Regions from separate parts of the Homo sapiens genome. Here region 2 is linked to region 1. A link means that fine-mapping ties the variant in region 1 to the expression of a gene that starts in the linked region. Tissue or cell type: whole blood. Region 1 holds a variant in brackets; the other region holds the start of a gene. All regions are shown on one strand. Distances are from middle to middle.

Evidence for each region. PIP is the estimated chance that this variant, and not a neighbour inherited with it, causes the effect.
Region 2: ARMCX4 starts here. The variant in region 1 is fine-mapped to the expression of ARMCX4 in whole blood (TOPMed, PIP 0.98).

The regions. Positions count from the first base shown.
Region 1 is chrX:101,415,426-101,423,797 of GRCh38, reverse strand. It overlaps a transcript of ARMCX4 not described here. Among named protein-coding and RNA genes, the nearest start is that of HNRNPH2, 11 kb to the right of the region's middle. The variant C/T (reference allele first, on the strand shown) is at 4,843.
Region 2 is chrX:101,481,041-101,487,879 of GRCh38, reverse strand. ARMCX4 (armadillo repeat containing X-linked 4) reads right to left here and starts at 2,424. Exons shown (of 6, transcript NM_001256155.3): 1 at 2,350-2,424; 2 at 1,788-1,857; 3 at 608-687; 4 at 189-272.

The DNA of each region.
Region 1 (8,372 bases):
TTTAACCTTCAGCTCCTCTCCCTTCCCCAGAGGCTGGGGGTGTGGTGAAAAAGTCTCAACTCTCTAATCCTGCCTTGACCAGCGCCCCCGTCCTAAATCTACCTAGGAGCCTCAGCCACCAGTTATCTCATTAGCATGCAAAAGATACTTTTTTATTTTTATTTTTATTTTTATTTTTTTGAGACGGAGTTTCACTCTTGTTGCCCAGGCTAGAGTGCAATGGCGTGATCTCAGCTCACTGCAACCTCCGCCTCCCAGGTTCAAGCGATTCTCCTGCCTCAGCGTCCCAAGTAGCTGGGATTACAGGCATGTGTCACCATGCCCGGCTAATTGTGTATTCTTAGTAGAGATGGGGTTTCACGATGTTGGTCAGGCTGGTCTCAAACTCCTGACCCCTGGTGATCCGCCCACCTCGGCCTCCCAAAGTGCTGGGATTACAAGCGTGAGCCACCACCCAGGGCAAAAGATACTCTCATCACCTCAGAGATTCTAAGGGTTTTAAAAGCTGTAATTCGCGAAAATGAGGATGAAGACTACCATGGTTTGAATGTTTGTCTTCTCCAAAACTCATGTTAAAATTTAATTGCCCCATGGGCATGGTGGCTCACGCCTGTAATCCCAGCACTTTGGGGGGCCGAGGCCAGTGGATCGCCTGAGGTCAGGAGTTCAAGACCAGCCTGGCCAACATGGTGAAACATTGTCTCTAGTAAAAATACAAAGATTAGCTGGGCATGGTGGTGGGCGCCTGTAATCCCAGCTACTCGGGAGGCTGAGGCAGGAGAATCGCTTGAGCCCAGGAGGTAGAGGTTGCACTGAGCCAAGATTGCGCCACTGCACTCCAATCTGGGCAACATAGTGAGACTCCGTCTCAAAAATATATATATATAAATAAAATAAAAATGAAAAATTTAATTGCCATTGTAATGAAATCACCTTTGCAAAATTATAACTGAGGAAATTATGACAGTGAAAGAAATCAGACCTAACCGACTCCACCTTGCTTCTAACCTTTAAGCTGTCCTTGTTCATTCCTGGGCATAGGTCAAACTAACTTTGGGAAGGAATTCAGTTTGTGGTTTGATTCTGAAACAAAATTGATCATAGGCGTTTCTTTCCTGGGGACTAGTCTGCCTGTGCAGGACTAACAAATTAGCTACAAGATTAGAAATTACAGTTTAGGGGTCATGCAGCCTCTGGCTCCAAGAGTCTGAACCTCCCCAAATTGCTCCTGGGGATAACATCACTATTGTGAAACCTAAGATCAGTGCCTGAGATACTTTTCAGACCCTGAACTCGATGGAGCAGCTGACACCACCCAGACCTGTAATCTGGCTCAACCAGTTCTGCCATCCCACCCAGAACACAAAACTGCAAGAAAGACTCACTTCGACCCCCTATGATTCCATCTCCAACCTGACTGATCAGCACTCCGTACTTCCCAAGCCCCTACCCACCAAGTTATCTTTAAAAACTCTGATCCCAGCCAGGCACGGTGGCTCACGCCTGTAATCCCAGCACTTTGGGAGGCTGAGGCGGGTGGATCACCTGAAGTCAGGAGTTCGAGACCAGCCTGGCCAACATGGTGAAACCCCATCTCTACTAAAAAATACAAAAATTGGCCTGGCATAGTGGCGGGCACCTGTAATCCCAGCTACTCGGGAGGCTGAGGCAGGAGAATCGCTTGAACCCGGGAGGCAGAGGTTGCAGTGAGCCGAAATCACATCATTGCACTCCAGCCTGGGCAACAGAGCAAGACTCTGTCTCAAATAATAATAATAATAATAATAATAATAATAATAATAATAACTGATCCCCCAAATGCTCTGGGAGACTGATTTAAGTAATAACAAAACTCTGGTCTCCTGCACAGCCGGCTGTGTGTGAATTACTCTTTCTTCATTTCAACTCTCCTGTCTTGATAAATCTCTGTCTAGGCAGCAGGCAAGGTGAACCCACTGGGCGGTTGCAGTAATAGTATTAAGAGGTGAGACTTTTAAGAGGTGATTAAGCCATGAGGGCTCTACCCTCACAGGTGGGATTAATGCCATTATAAAAGGGCAAGATCGGTCTCCTCTTGCTCTATCTCTTGGCCCTTCTTTCTGTCTTCTGCCATGTCATGATCTAGCCTTCCTCCCCTCTGGAGGACACAGTGTGTGCAGGGACCATCTTGGAAAAAGAGAATGGCCTCACCAGACACCAAACCTGCCCACACCTTAACCTTAGACTTCCTATCTTCCAGAACTGTAAGGCAATAAATTTCTGTTTATAAATTACCCACTATCGGGTATTGTTATAGCAGCACAAAACAAACTAAAGACTAAATGTGTACTTCACAATATCACACTCCCTCCCTCCCAATTCCAATCCATTGCCAAGTCCTGCAGATTTTACCTCCTAAGAAACCCTAAAATATACCAATCCCCTCCATGTAAACCATGGCTATTGTAGTACAAGCTACTATTACCTCTACTCTAGATTGTTGAAATGGCTTCTAATAAAACTCTCCATACATTCTGACTCCTTCCCAATCCTTTATCCACACTGTAGCCAGGGCAATATTTTCTTTTCCTTTCTTTTTTTTTTTTTTTTTTTTTGAGACAGAGTTTTGCTCTTGTTGCCCAGGCTGGTGTGCAATGGCGCGATCTCAGCTCACCACAACCTCTGCCTCCCGGGTTCAAGCGATTCTCCTGCCTCACCCTCCCGAGTAGCTGGGATTACAAGCATGCACCACCATGCCCGGCTAACTTTTTGTATTTTTAGTAGAGACGGGGTTTCACCATGTTGGTTGGCCAGGCTGGTCTCGAATGCCCGACCTCAGGTGATCCACCTGCCTCAGCCTCCCAAAGTGCTGGGATTACAGGCATGAGCCACTGTGCCTGGCCCCCAGGGCAATATTTTCAAAGACAAATCTGATTCGTTCTCCCCATCCCACAGGGCTTCCAATGGCTCTTAGGATATAGACTGAATGGCTTAAGATGGCTTGTAAGGCCCTGCATGCCCTGACCCAACACACTGCTGTCCCAACTGCCTGTTGAACTCCAGCCACTTTCATTCAGTCTCTTTTACTCACCATGCCATCTCTGAACACATAGCCTCAAACCAGCTCCTCCAACTCTCACCTCCAATCTAATTAGCCACTATTCTTCCTTTAACTCTCAGCTCAATAACTGCTTCTTTGAAGCAATTCCTGACCACCTTGACTAGTCGAATACCCCTATTTTATAGGCTCTCATTGCACCATGTACCCTCCTTTTCATGATACTTGTCCTCATTGCAATTATACACTTGCATGGCTATTTGCTTGCTACTTGGCTCCCCACTGTACTATGAGCTCCTTGAGGACAGGAACTTAATAGGTGTTTTTCCTCAAATTTCCTCAGCACCCAGTACAATGCCTGGCAATAAATTGGTGGTCTTTTTTTTGTTTTTGTTTTTTTTTGAGACGGAGGCCCACTCTGTCACCCAAGCTGGAGTGCAGTGGCACAATCTTGGCTCATTGCAACCTCCGCCTCCTGCATTCAAGTGATTCTCCTGCCTCAGCCTCCCAAGTAGCTGGGATTACAGGCGCACACCACCATGCCCAGCTAATTTTTGTATTTCTAGTAGAGATGGGGGTTTCACCATGTTGGCCAGGCTCGTCTCGAACTCCTGACCTGATCCACCCGCCTCGGCCTCCCAGAGTGCTGGGATTACAGGCGTGAGCCACTGCATCCAGCCAATTGGTGGTCTTTTTAAAAAGAATTGTACCCTGGCAGGTCATGCTAATATATACTACTAGAAGCACTGTCTGAGAGTGCCTTCCGCCAATGGGAAACAGAGCCAGATACTAGTCAAAAGCAGTAAAGCCATATTTTGAGTACTATTATAATAGAGGAAAAGAGACTTCAGTATAGAACTAAGCTCAATCCAAAGACAACTAGGACAAGTGTGGATTTACAGTCAAGCAGCAGAGTGAGGGAGTCAGTAGAAAGAAAATTCCTAAGGGGAGAGAGATATCAAGGGTAGGGGGATTCTTGCTCAACTGACTAAACAGGATTCTCGCTCAAGGCAGGACAAGGTGATCAGGTATCAAGGGTGAGGGAGTTACTCAGCAGGACTCTTGCTAAAACTGGGCTAGGCAGGCCGAGGACAGGGCCCAAGGACAAGGTGTAGTTGAAAAGAAAGCTGAGAGGAGCCTGTCCAAAGTTTGCTCAAAGAGACTTTGTTACTTCCTCAGGCCAGTGTATGTTTCTTTATCTTTATGTCTTACTTTGCTGCTAGTCTCCCCACAAAATAGATCATATCCCCACTACTCTTTACTTATTATTCCATAGGCATTTTAAGAGCTTCTTTGAGTTATAATTTATATTTCATAAAGTTCTCCCCCTTTTCAAGTGCAAATTCAATAGTTTTTAGTAATTTATAGAGTTGTGCGAACTATCACCACAATCTAAGTTGGGACATTTTCGTTATCTCTAAAAGACGCTCCATGCCCATTTGCAGCCACTCCCAGTTCCCACCCCATAGCTGCTTTTGAAAGCCATCATATTTGCCTAAGGATGAAAGGTACAGCCTCACTGGAAAAGCAAAAATCAAAACTACCACGCGTGAAATAATTTGAGAACCACCAAGCACTAATTGTGCATTTCTGATTATTTTCTCAAAAACATTTAAAGACAAGTCAATGTGAACTAAGGAGTGGGAGGAGGTTTCAAGGAAAAGGTAGAACATTTTAAGGTTTTTCTGCAGAGGAAAAAGTGAGCAAAAAAAAAAAAAAGGAAAAGGAATTTAAGTTGAAAAATACTCCAACAAACGAACCAACATGTTTTCAGAACTTTTTGAAGTTCCAGTATGGTGCTGTCA[C/T]GGTTGGTGAGCTGTCTGTCCTTGATCCAGTAGACAATGCGAGTTTCTAGAACAGAAGGATAAGGATTTATCACAAGCCATAAAAGCTGAAGCAACACTCAACTGAAAATAAACATGTATTGAGCGCCTACTGTGTGTCACGCAAGGGGCTCTGCGCAGGAAAAAAAAAAAAAAAAAAGGCTCCTCGCAGCTCCCCCTGCCCCGGCCAGGTGGCTGCGTGCCCCCTTCCGCCTAATCCCTGGACTGCCCTGGGGCTGAGAACTCCCCTGGCGCGAGAAGCTGGACTCCCCCGGGGACCGGCCCGAGATCACTCGGAGTCGGGGGCGTCCGGCACAGGCCAGACGCAAGGAGGACCCAGCTGGGGCCGGCCCTTCCTTCCCTTCTCCTGTCGCACGACTAGGCCTGTGCCCGGTCCCACCTGCCGCCCTCCCCCTCCTCCTAATGGGACCGAAAAGAGCCCGAAGGGCCTGGGAGGGCGGGTGAGGTTCCCAGGCCTTTCCAGATGCCCTGCCGTGTTTGGCAAAGCGATTGTCTTCCCTCTTGGAGCTCCGCGGACACCCGACCCCTCTTCCTCTCCCTCGCCACCTTCCGTCATTCGCCACGCTGACCACTTCCCCTCTGCTGCCTCCCGCTGAAGCCCCAGCCCGGCCGCGGCCGCCATTTCCCGACAGCCTCTTCCCTGTCCCTTTCCCTGAAAGGAAATGTACTGGGGCGGGGCGGGGCGCTGTGTGAGGGTCTCGAGAAAGCCGCCGGGGAGAAGGAGGGATGGATTCTTTCCAAACTCTCTCCGCTCTCCCGGAGCCCCCTACCTCACCCTTTCTCCCCGAATTCTTGTGGGCTTGGGAGCGAGAGAGAAGGAGCTGGTCCCAGCGCTAGTCACCGCCACCCTCAGCCCACAGATCGGGGGGGGCACGGGTACTCGTACACCACCCCATAAGGATCCCAGCCATGTCCTCTTTCCTTCGCCAGAGCTCATTTCCTCCTCCCTTCCAGCTTCCTGCCCTTTCCCCAAGACAAAGTTGATGTTTGCCTTCCCTGAGACTCAATTTCCTCATCTCTAAAGTGGGATGACACGTAAGAACATCTTGTATATGTGAAACATGCCCTGTGCAAAAGAAGGGGAGCAGGAAGAGGGATACAGGGAGAAAAAGGGCCGTGGAAAAAGGGTCCTTGGAATGTACGGGTAGATGTTCTAAAGAATGTATCGGTCAGAGCATTAGGATAGGTTCAGAAAATAATTACTGAATATATTATTTTGATTCTTAGATGTTATCTCTCACTATTTATCTCTTCTTTCAGAAGCCTAACATTCTCTTCTCAGAGGGCCAGATCGATGTGTGTTGTGTGCATTTATCTGTGCTGACCACTGCTGTGACGGAGGTGGTGGGGCGTCCATTCACAGGCTGCAGGCACAGGGACAACATAACTGTGGAATCCTAATTAGAAAAAAGGAGTTAGGCTGGCTGGAGCAGGGGAAGGCAAAGGGAGAAAGCAAATAAGCTATAAGTTTGTCTTTCTTCATGGTCCAGAACATATAAACAAAAAGAGGAATCAGATAAGCTATAGGTCTGCTTTTCTTTATGGCCCAGGACATGTGGCTTCTTGCGCAGATAACATACATAACTCACAAACTTCCTGCTCACTATCAAACGCCTCAATTTATCAAACACCCCAGCTAACAGAAGAATGCAAGCTAGCTCCCTACTGCCTTGGTTTTCTCAATCAGCCCAAAAACCATCCTATAAAATCTCCAGCAAGCCTTTGTTTCTTTTCAGTCGGCTCCTCTCTTGCAGGCTGCCCGTTGCCTTCTCGAAACGTATTTTCCTACTTTCTCTAATAAATCTGCCTTTACCTCCAACTGTCTTGGTAAATTATTTTACCCCTGCACCACCAGCCCAGTTAGTCGACACTCCCCCGCGACGATAACCCCTCACCTTCCCAGCGGAGTCCTGCACCATGCTAACCTGGGCCCCTTGGGCATGCCTGCTTTGCACTCATGAGAAGACAGTTTTGGTCATTGTGGGAGCAGCTTGTAAAGGGTTCTTGTGACACTCCCAGCCTGGTATAAGGCACAGCAAGTGGAATTTCCTTCCATCAGCAGCTGTTTTGCAATAGCCCTGGAGGCCCATCTTGGAGAAATCTTCATTTTAGCTGACAGCACTAGGAATTCTACCTGATGGAAAAGGAGCTTGATTTATAAACATATTCGCAATGCATTTTCGTATCATTTTGCTGGGTAGAGAAGGCAGAGAAGATATGTCATGCTTACACATGGGATTGTCTCTGTTTTGGTTACCTCCTTTAGGGTTGGATGAGTGAATGCAGGAATCAATGAATGGGTGGATAATGGAATCCATGTATCCATCAGCCAGTAGTTTCCTGCAGCAGAACCACCCTGAGCACTTGTTAAAACACAGCTTATTGGCTGGACAGAGGTTCACACCTGTAATCCCAGCACTTTGAGAGGCCAAGGCAGGAGGATCTCTTGAGCCTAGGAGTTCGAGACCAGCCTAGGCAACATAGTGAGATCCCGTCTCTATAAAAATCATTTTAAAAAATAACTGGGCTTGGTGGCACTCGCCTGTAGTCCCAGCTACTCGAGAGGCTGAGGTGGGAGTATCACTTGAGCCTGGAATTCAAGGCTGCAGTGAGCTGAGATCGCACCACCGCACTCCAGCCTGGGCAAGAGCGAGACCCTGTCTCAGAAAAACACAAAAAACAAAACACAACTTGTTGGGCTCCACACCCAGTTTCTGATTCAGTCCTTGGGGGAAAGGGACGAGGCGGGGGGCGGGGGGGCAAAAAGAATCTGCATATCTCACAAGGTGGAGGTTCATGCTGTTACTGATCAGGTACCACACCCAGAGAACCACTGGCACAAGCCATCGGATACTTAGACCACGATAACTGTGGCTGCAAATTTTCTGCCTGATCCTGCCAAATAGCTCACACACGCAGTTGAAAATAAATCCTCTGACTCAGTGTTTGGGGGGTGTTGTGGGTGGACTGCCCACTCGACCTCCCATCACTTTCCTGGGTAGTAGTGTTAGATGTGAGTGTTGGAGCACGAATGGTGGTGGGTGTGCACGCGTGTGCACACCAGCTGTACTGCTGTCCCTTTGCACACCTCTAGTGCTGACCGCTGACCTTCTCCAGGTTCTCTCTCCTTTGCTCCCCAGAGCCCTTCTGAGTCTTCTTAGCCAGCGAAGAAGAGTAAGTGAACATCTAAGATCACAAAGAACCCTCTATTGTCTCCTGGGATTTGGTGCCATCTAGTGGCTAACTTGAGAATCTTTGCTCAGACTTAGAGAAACTTCTGGAAAATTAACTAAGTAGCCTGGGAAGGCAAAAACACCTACTTGTTTACCCTCTGAGAAAGGCTTCCTGAAGGGCAAGGACTGGCTCAACATGATAGGAGTCAAAATGGATTTCTTGCTCTCCTGAAAGCTGTGATAAAAATTAGAAGTCATCAAAGAATCTCAATCACGTCTCACTGCATCTTCAGCTTGAATGATTTTCTAGAATTGATT
Region 2 (6,839 bases), 65 kb before region 1:
ACTCTTTTCCCTGTACCAGAATTAAGGTGAGGGTATGGAGTAAATGACAGGGATGGTGGGAAAGGTGGCTGGAAAAGGAGAGACTGAGGATCCTCATCCTCCAGACTGGTCACTGGTCCTTACTGGATGCACACTGGTCTCCACCAACCCACTCTAGAGGTCTACCCAGGCAGTCCCCACACTCTTACCAGTCTATACTGATCAGGAGCAATCTCCTCTTTGTTTCTTTGCTTCCAGTGATCTTAAGCCCTGCAGCAGACATGCAGGCAGATCTATGGACAAGTAAACAAACAGTAGGTAATGGAAACCGAGTCCCTGGTAGAACAGACAAGCAACCTGATCCCTGACCCCAATGTCTGCCTCGCCAGAGCCCAGGTTCTATATACTAATGTGTACCATCTCATGGTCCCCCCATCAAGTCTTCCCCCAGTCATACTCCAGCCCACCCTTACCCCCATATTCCTATCATTTCCTGCACTGAAATCCACAGGAGGCATGGCAGCACTGTGGCAATCCAGCACTCCACTGAGACCCTCTTAAATCTCACCCACCTCCTATGCCCACCCTCTCTTGTCATCCCCAGAGACTACCCCCACTTCACACCAACCTCCATGCTTCTAGATTGATCTCCTCCTCTTTCCCTTGCTTCCAATGGTAAACAGCCCTACTGCAGGCCTATGGGAAGACCTTGGAACAGATGGAGAAAAAGAAGAGAGTGGATGTTAAGTACTTGTGACACTTACCATCTAAGACATAGGTCCCTGTACCTGCCTGCCTGGATTTAGAGACCCATTTGCTGGCAGAAAAAAAAAAAAAAAAAAGCCTGGGGCTTCCCCAGCACTGAAATGGGAAGGATGGAAAAGGGAGGCAGGAAAAGTAAAAGGCAACAGACAGAGGCACGTTATTTTATTTTATTTTATTTTATTTTATTTATTTTATTTTTTATTTATTTTGAGACAGAGCCCCACTCTGTCACCCAGGCTGGATTGCAGTGGCAAGATCATGGCTCACCACAGTCTCGACCTCCCAGGCTCAAAAGATCCTCCCACCTCAGCCTCCCAAGTAGCAGGAACTACAGACTGTGCCACCATACCCAGCTAATTTTTAAATTATATGTAGAGATGAAGTCTCGCTATGTTGCCCAGGCTGGTCTTGAACACCTGAGCTCAAGCAATCCTCTTGCTTGGGTCTCTCAAAGTGCTGGGATTACAGGCAAGAGCTACTAGGCCCAACAAGGCAAATTATTTTAAAACCACCTGTAGGGTTCTAGGGATTTCCCCAAAAGCCCACCATTTCCTTCACCAAGATGGTCAGGTAGGTAGAGGGATCTGGAAAACTGAAGGATGGCAGGAGAGATGGGAGACCCCAGATCCCATACTCTAGAACCACAACCTACTGCTGTCCACGTCCCTTTCAACCTATCTCTAGGAGTCTCCAGCAGAAGAGAAAAGCTATAGGGGAAGCCTTTTGCTTCTACAAAATCACTATCCTTCCCCACCAAAGGCTATCTAAAAAATAATAATAATAATAATATTCTTTAATATAATTTATCTTTTTCTCAATATTATCTGAAATGCAAATAAAAGCATCTGTAGAAAAGTTTGCTGTCTTCATTGGTCTTCAACATACAATTTAAAAGTCCTAAGCTTGGTAAGTAAAATGCAGTTTAGGGAAAGTCCCCAAGCTAGCCCCACCCCACATCCCATTCAGACAGCCGCACCTAAGTTCCTGTCATAGAATTCATATGGAACTCCAATGGTTTAGATAGTGTCTGTACTCACACTAACCTCCTTGATCCAGTGCAGTTTTCTCCTCTCCTTCCTTTCTCCTCGCCGCAAACAGTGCTACACCGAACTACTGTCCGACAGACAGGAGAGAGTAAAACCACTTAGTGTTGGTCTAGAGCCCAGGACATAGATCCCAATACTCGCCTTTCCGGGTTCAGGAACCTGGTTATCAAACGTCCCTCCCCACAGTCTGAGACACCACCCTTACCAACCCCACCGTCCAGTCTCTAAGGCCCACCATTTTCTCTGCAAACGCCACCGTGGCGCATCCCTTCCACTAAATTGAGCAGGAAGCGAGCGGACATGTGTGGCCAGTGATTAGAGCGATGGGCATCTCAATCTCTGTATTTCCCTCTGGCAGAGACAATCTCCCCACAAATCAAAGCCCACGGTTCGCCTGCACAGATGTAGGCGGGGGCAAGGGGGCTAGGGAGAATCAGAGGCAAAGGCTCCTCGAACTTGAGGCAGCATAGACCACCGCCCCCTCAAGCCCCGTAACCGCTGCCGGGGTCAGTGAGCTTCTGCCGGCCTGGCCAGGGCGCGCGGGCCCCAGGGCCCTTACCTGCTCCGCTTTCCCCGGGCCCGATGCCAGCCCGCCGAGCGCAGGGCAGCGGGGAGCTGGTAGCCAGATGCGAGTGACGACTGCAACGAAGGCTGCGTAGCTCTGCAGCTCCGGGTCACGTGAGGACCGCGCGTCACCGCCGAGCTCGCCCTCCTCCCCAGCACCCCCTACCACCCACCAAGGGCCGGCGGCCAGTCACCAGGAACTCCCCCCTCCTCCACTCCGCACGCACAGACATCCCCGTTCTCTGGTCTGTGCTCGGTGCCCCAGTGCGCACGCGTTGTCACTCATCTCCGTCCTCTCCAATCTGAGGGCCCACAAGTGGCATCATCGCCTTGTGGTTGGAGTTTACCCATCTTCAGTTACAGGGGAGGGTCTGCATCCCCCTACCCACTCCCGGCCCTTGGCTGTGGCCTTTTATGTTTCTTCTTTGAGTAATCACTTATTTCTCTCTTAGACTATAAGACCAGCACTCCCCACCCGCCCCCTACACGACCTGCCCTCTCTAAGTACAATGCCTGCACCAAATGGGCTGTGGAAGGGGGTATCAGGAAGGAAAGCAGAAGGTGCAAGTAGAGCTTTAATTTTCTTTTTCGTGTTCCTTTTTTTTCTTTTAATATGACATTCTTTTCTAATATTGTAATCAGAAAATACAGTATAGCCATTTTCATTTGACACAAAAAATATTCAGGGTGTAAAAATAACAAAAGACTCATTCTTTTGTTTACATTATTTTGTGCCACATTTTAAAATGTCTTCTGTTACTGCAAACTATTTTACAGCTTTCAAAATTGACTAGTAATTCTTGACATTTTAAATACAAAATTGTCCTAAACAAAACCAGCACGTATTCAATATGATCTATAAGTTAATCTTTGGAAAGACATTTCGTTTTCTAATATTGACAATTTTACACAGGTGATTTGTAACTTTTGAAGTTCTGGCTGAACTCAGCATCTTTTTTCAGGTGTCTAAGACCTTCTTCAGAGAAGACTTCTAGAGGATATATTTAAGACCCAACTCCTGATGAGCCTAGTGCTTTACTAGTGACTTACCAAATTAACCTGCTTTACTAGTGACTTCCCAAATTAACCTGTTTTCCATTCAAGGGGCTTTATTTGGATTTTACATAAGCATGTAATCAGATCAGCCTCACCACACCCATGGAACAACCAACTGCTAGAGCTTGGATGGAAAGGAGACTTAACAGGTGGAATTTTCATCCGTCGTAACACTTGAGATCTCGCCGGTGTCTGCCATTCATGTACTACATACTACCCTAGCAGTGGCGAGTGTTCAATATTTTCCAGTGGAGATGGTGGTGAGGGTCTGTGGATGACTGTGAATCACTGCAACACACCTGATGTCCGTGTCATTATTTTTTTCCCTCACAAGTGGAAGGGCAATGTACAGGATCCCAAGCAATTGCCAAGAAAAAGAAGTTTTTTCATGTCCTGCCTTGTGTTACAACTTCACTGCACCTCCCATACAAGCCCCTCAGAATAATCCCAAAACTCAGGGACCAAATATGCAGAAGTTAGTCCCCACGCATCCACCTGTCCCCGCTGAGGAGTCATACTCCAAATATAGACCCTCCAGGCAGCCTCTTTCTTAGAACATTGAAATAGGACACCCCAGAGGGAGGGGCTCCACTGTGAGGGGCCCCTGTGTGGAGGAGGCCCTTTCAGGAGCCAAGAAAGGAAGTCCTAGTGCCTTACAATCTTACTAATGGCTTTTCAGAACTCAATTGAAAGTGACGAACTTACTTTCTCCACCAAAGGAAAATATTGATAAATTAATTGCATACAAATTTTAAACTTTGGTAAAGTAAAAAAAAAAAACCATAAACATTGACTGTCAAAAGGCTAACTTGTAATAATCTAAAAGCTCTTACAGATCATTAGTAAAATGATAAACAACCCAATAGAAAAATGTGCCAAAAGACATGAACAGATTTGTTCACAGAAAAGAAATAGATTACTAATAAACATATGAAAAGATGCTCAAACAAAGAAATGCAAATCAAAGCAACTATGCCTTACCATGTTTCAAGTATGATTTTCTCAAAGTTTAGAAACTTGATAATATTGTTGACTGGTTTGTCAAGAAATGGGCACTCCTCTACTCTGTTGGAGGCAGATATTGATGCAAGCTTTTTATATAGGGCAATTTGGCAAACTCTATTAAATGATAACTATAATATTTCACAAATTCTTTGACCCAATAATTCTATTCCTTGGAATTTAGCCAACCTATATGCCTACACAGTTTCACAAAGATATATTTACTAGAATTTTTTTTTTTCGCAATGCTTGTAAGGTTTGAAAAAACTGACGCAGCCGGGCACGGTGGCTCACACCTGTAATCCCAGCACTTTGGGAGGCCGAAGCAGGTGGATCACGAGGTCAGGAGTTCAAGACCAGCCTGGCCAACGTGGTGAAACCCCGTTTCTATTAAAAATACAAAAATTAGCCGGGCGCAGTGGCAGGCGCTTATAACCCCAGCTACTTGCAAGGCTGAGTCAGGAGAATGGCTTGAACCCAAGGGATGGAGGTTGCAGTGAGCCTAGATCACGCCACTGCACTCCAGTCTGGCTGACAGAGTGAGACTCTGTCAAAAAAAAAAAAAAAAAAAAAAAAAGCCTGACGCAACATAAAATGGCTATTGATAGGGGAGAGATTAAATAACTCATGTTATATTTATACAATGTGGCTGATGGAGTTAGCTCTGTGTATCCCAGTGGAAAGATAATTGGGGTGTTTTAATATTTGCTGTTTACTTTACATACAAATCCCACAAGAGTACAATTCTAGTATAAAATTCAAACCCAAGGCCAAGTGTGATGGCTCACGCCTATAATCCCAATACTTTGGGAGTCTGAGGCAAGAGCATTACTTGAGGCCAAGAGTTTGAGACCACCCTACATAGGTTTCCCGACATAGGGAAACCTGTCTATTAAAAAAAAAAAATAGCTGGGCTTAGTGGTGCATGCCTGTGGTCCTAGCTACTTGGGAGGCTACTTGGCAAGAAGATTGTTTGAGCTTAGGAATTCAAGGTTACAGTGAACTATGATTGCACCACTGCTCTCCAGACCGGCAATGGCGTGAAACCCTGTCTCTGAAAAGAAAAGAAAAGAAAAGAATAGTCAAACCCAGAAAAAGCACTAGTACCACTTTCACTCCCCTATCCTCACCCAAATCACAGTTACCTCTCCATTTTAAGTTTGGTGTATTAACCTTTTGTATACATGATATACACATACATGTCTTATTAAAATATATAAATGAGATTTTTTTTTATATGGAGTCTTGCTCTTTCACTCAGGCTGGAGTGCAGTGGTGCGATCTTGGCTCACCGCAACCTCCACCTCTCGGGTTCAAGCGATTCTCATGCCTCAGCCTCCCTAGTAGCTGGGATTACAGGTGCGCACCACCATGCCCAGCTAATGTTTGTATTTTTAGTAGAGACTGGGTTTCACCATGTTGGCTAGGCTGGTCTCAAACTCCTGGCCTCAAGTGATCCAACCACCTGGGCCTCTCAAAGTGCTGGGATTACAGGTGTGAGCCACCACGCCTGGCCAGGATCATAATTAACATACTGTTTTGCAACTTGCTTTTTTTTCATTTAAAATTATGTCTCAAAGAGCTCTACATACCAGTACATTTAAAGCTGCTTCATTCTTTTTAACTGCTGCATATTATGAGTTCTGGATCCGGAGCTAATAAAGCAAGGTTACAATGAACAGTCTGGCACATAAAGCTTTGCCAACAGGTAGAAGAATTTCTTTAGGATATTCTACTATAAATATAATTATTTGCTTAAATGTATGAGATTTTATACATTTGATATTGCCAAAAGAAGGATGTGAGATTTTATATAGTTAATGGATATACCACCAAACTGTCCTCCAAAAAGGCTTGGCCAATTTATACCCCCATCAAACATAAGACAGGATCTATTTCCCCACACTCTCATGCACACTGTGTACAAATGTTTCTCAACTTATAATGGGGTCATGTTCAAATAAACTTATAGGTTGAAAATACCATAAATCTAAAATGCATTTAATACATCCAACCTACCAAACATCATAGCCTAGCCTACCTTAAAAATGCTCGGAACACTCACATTAGCTGACAGTTCGGCAAAATCATCTAATGCAAAGCCTATTTTATAATAAAGTGTTGAATATCTCACATAATTTATTGAATACTACATTGAAAGAAAAACAGGATGGTTGTATGAGTACTTGAAGTACAGATTTTACTGAATGTGTATTGCTTTTGCACCACCAATTAAAGTAAAAAAATCATAGGTTGAATTGTCATAAATTGGGGACCGTCTGTATTAGTAATTATTGCCAATATAAGAGTCAACAAAAGATTGTCCTTTTTTTTGTTTTGTTTTGAGATAGGTTCTCACTCTGTTGCCCAGGCTGGAGTGCAGTGATGTAATCACAGCTCACTGCAGCCTCGACCTTCCTGAGCTCA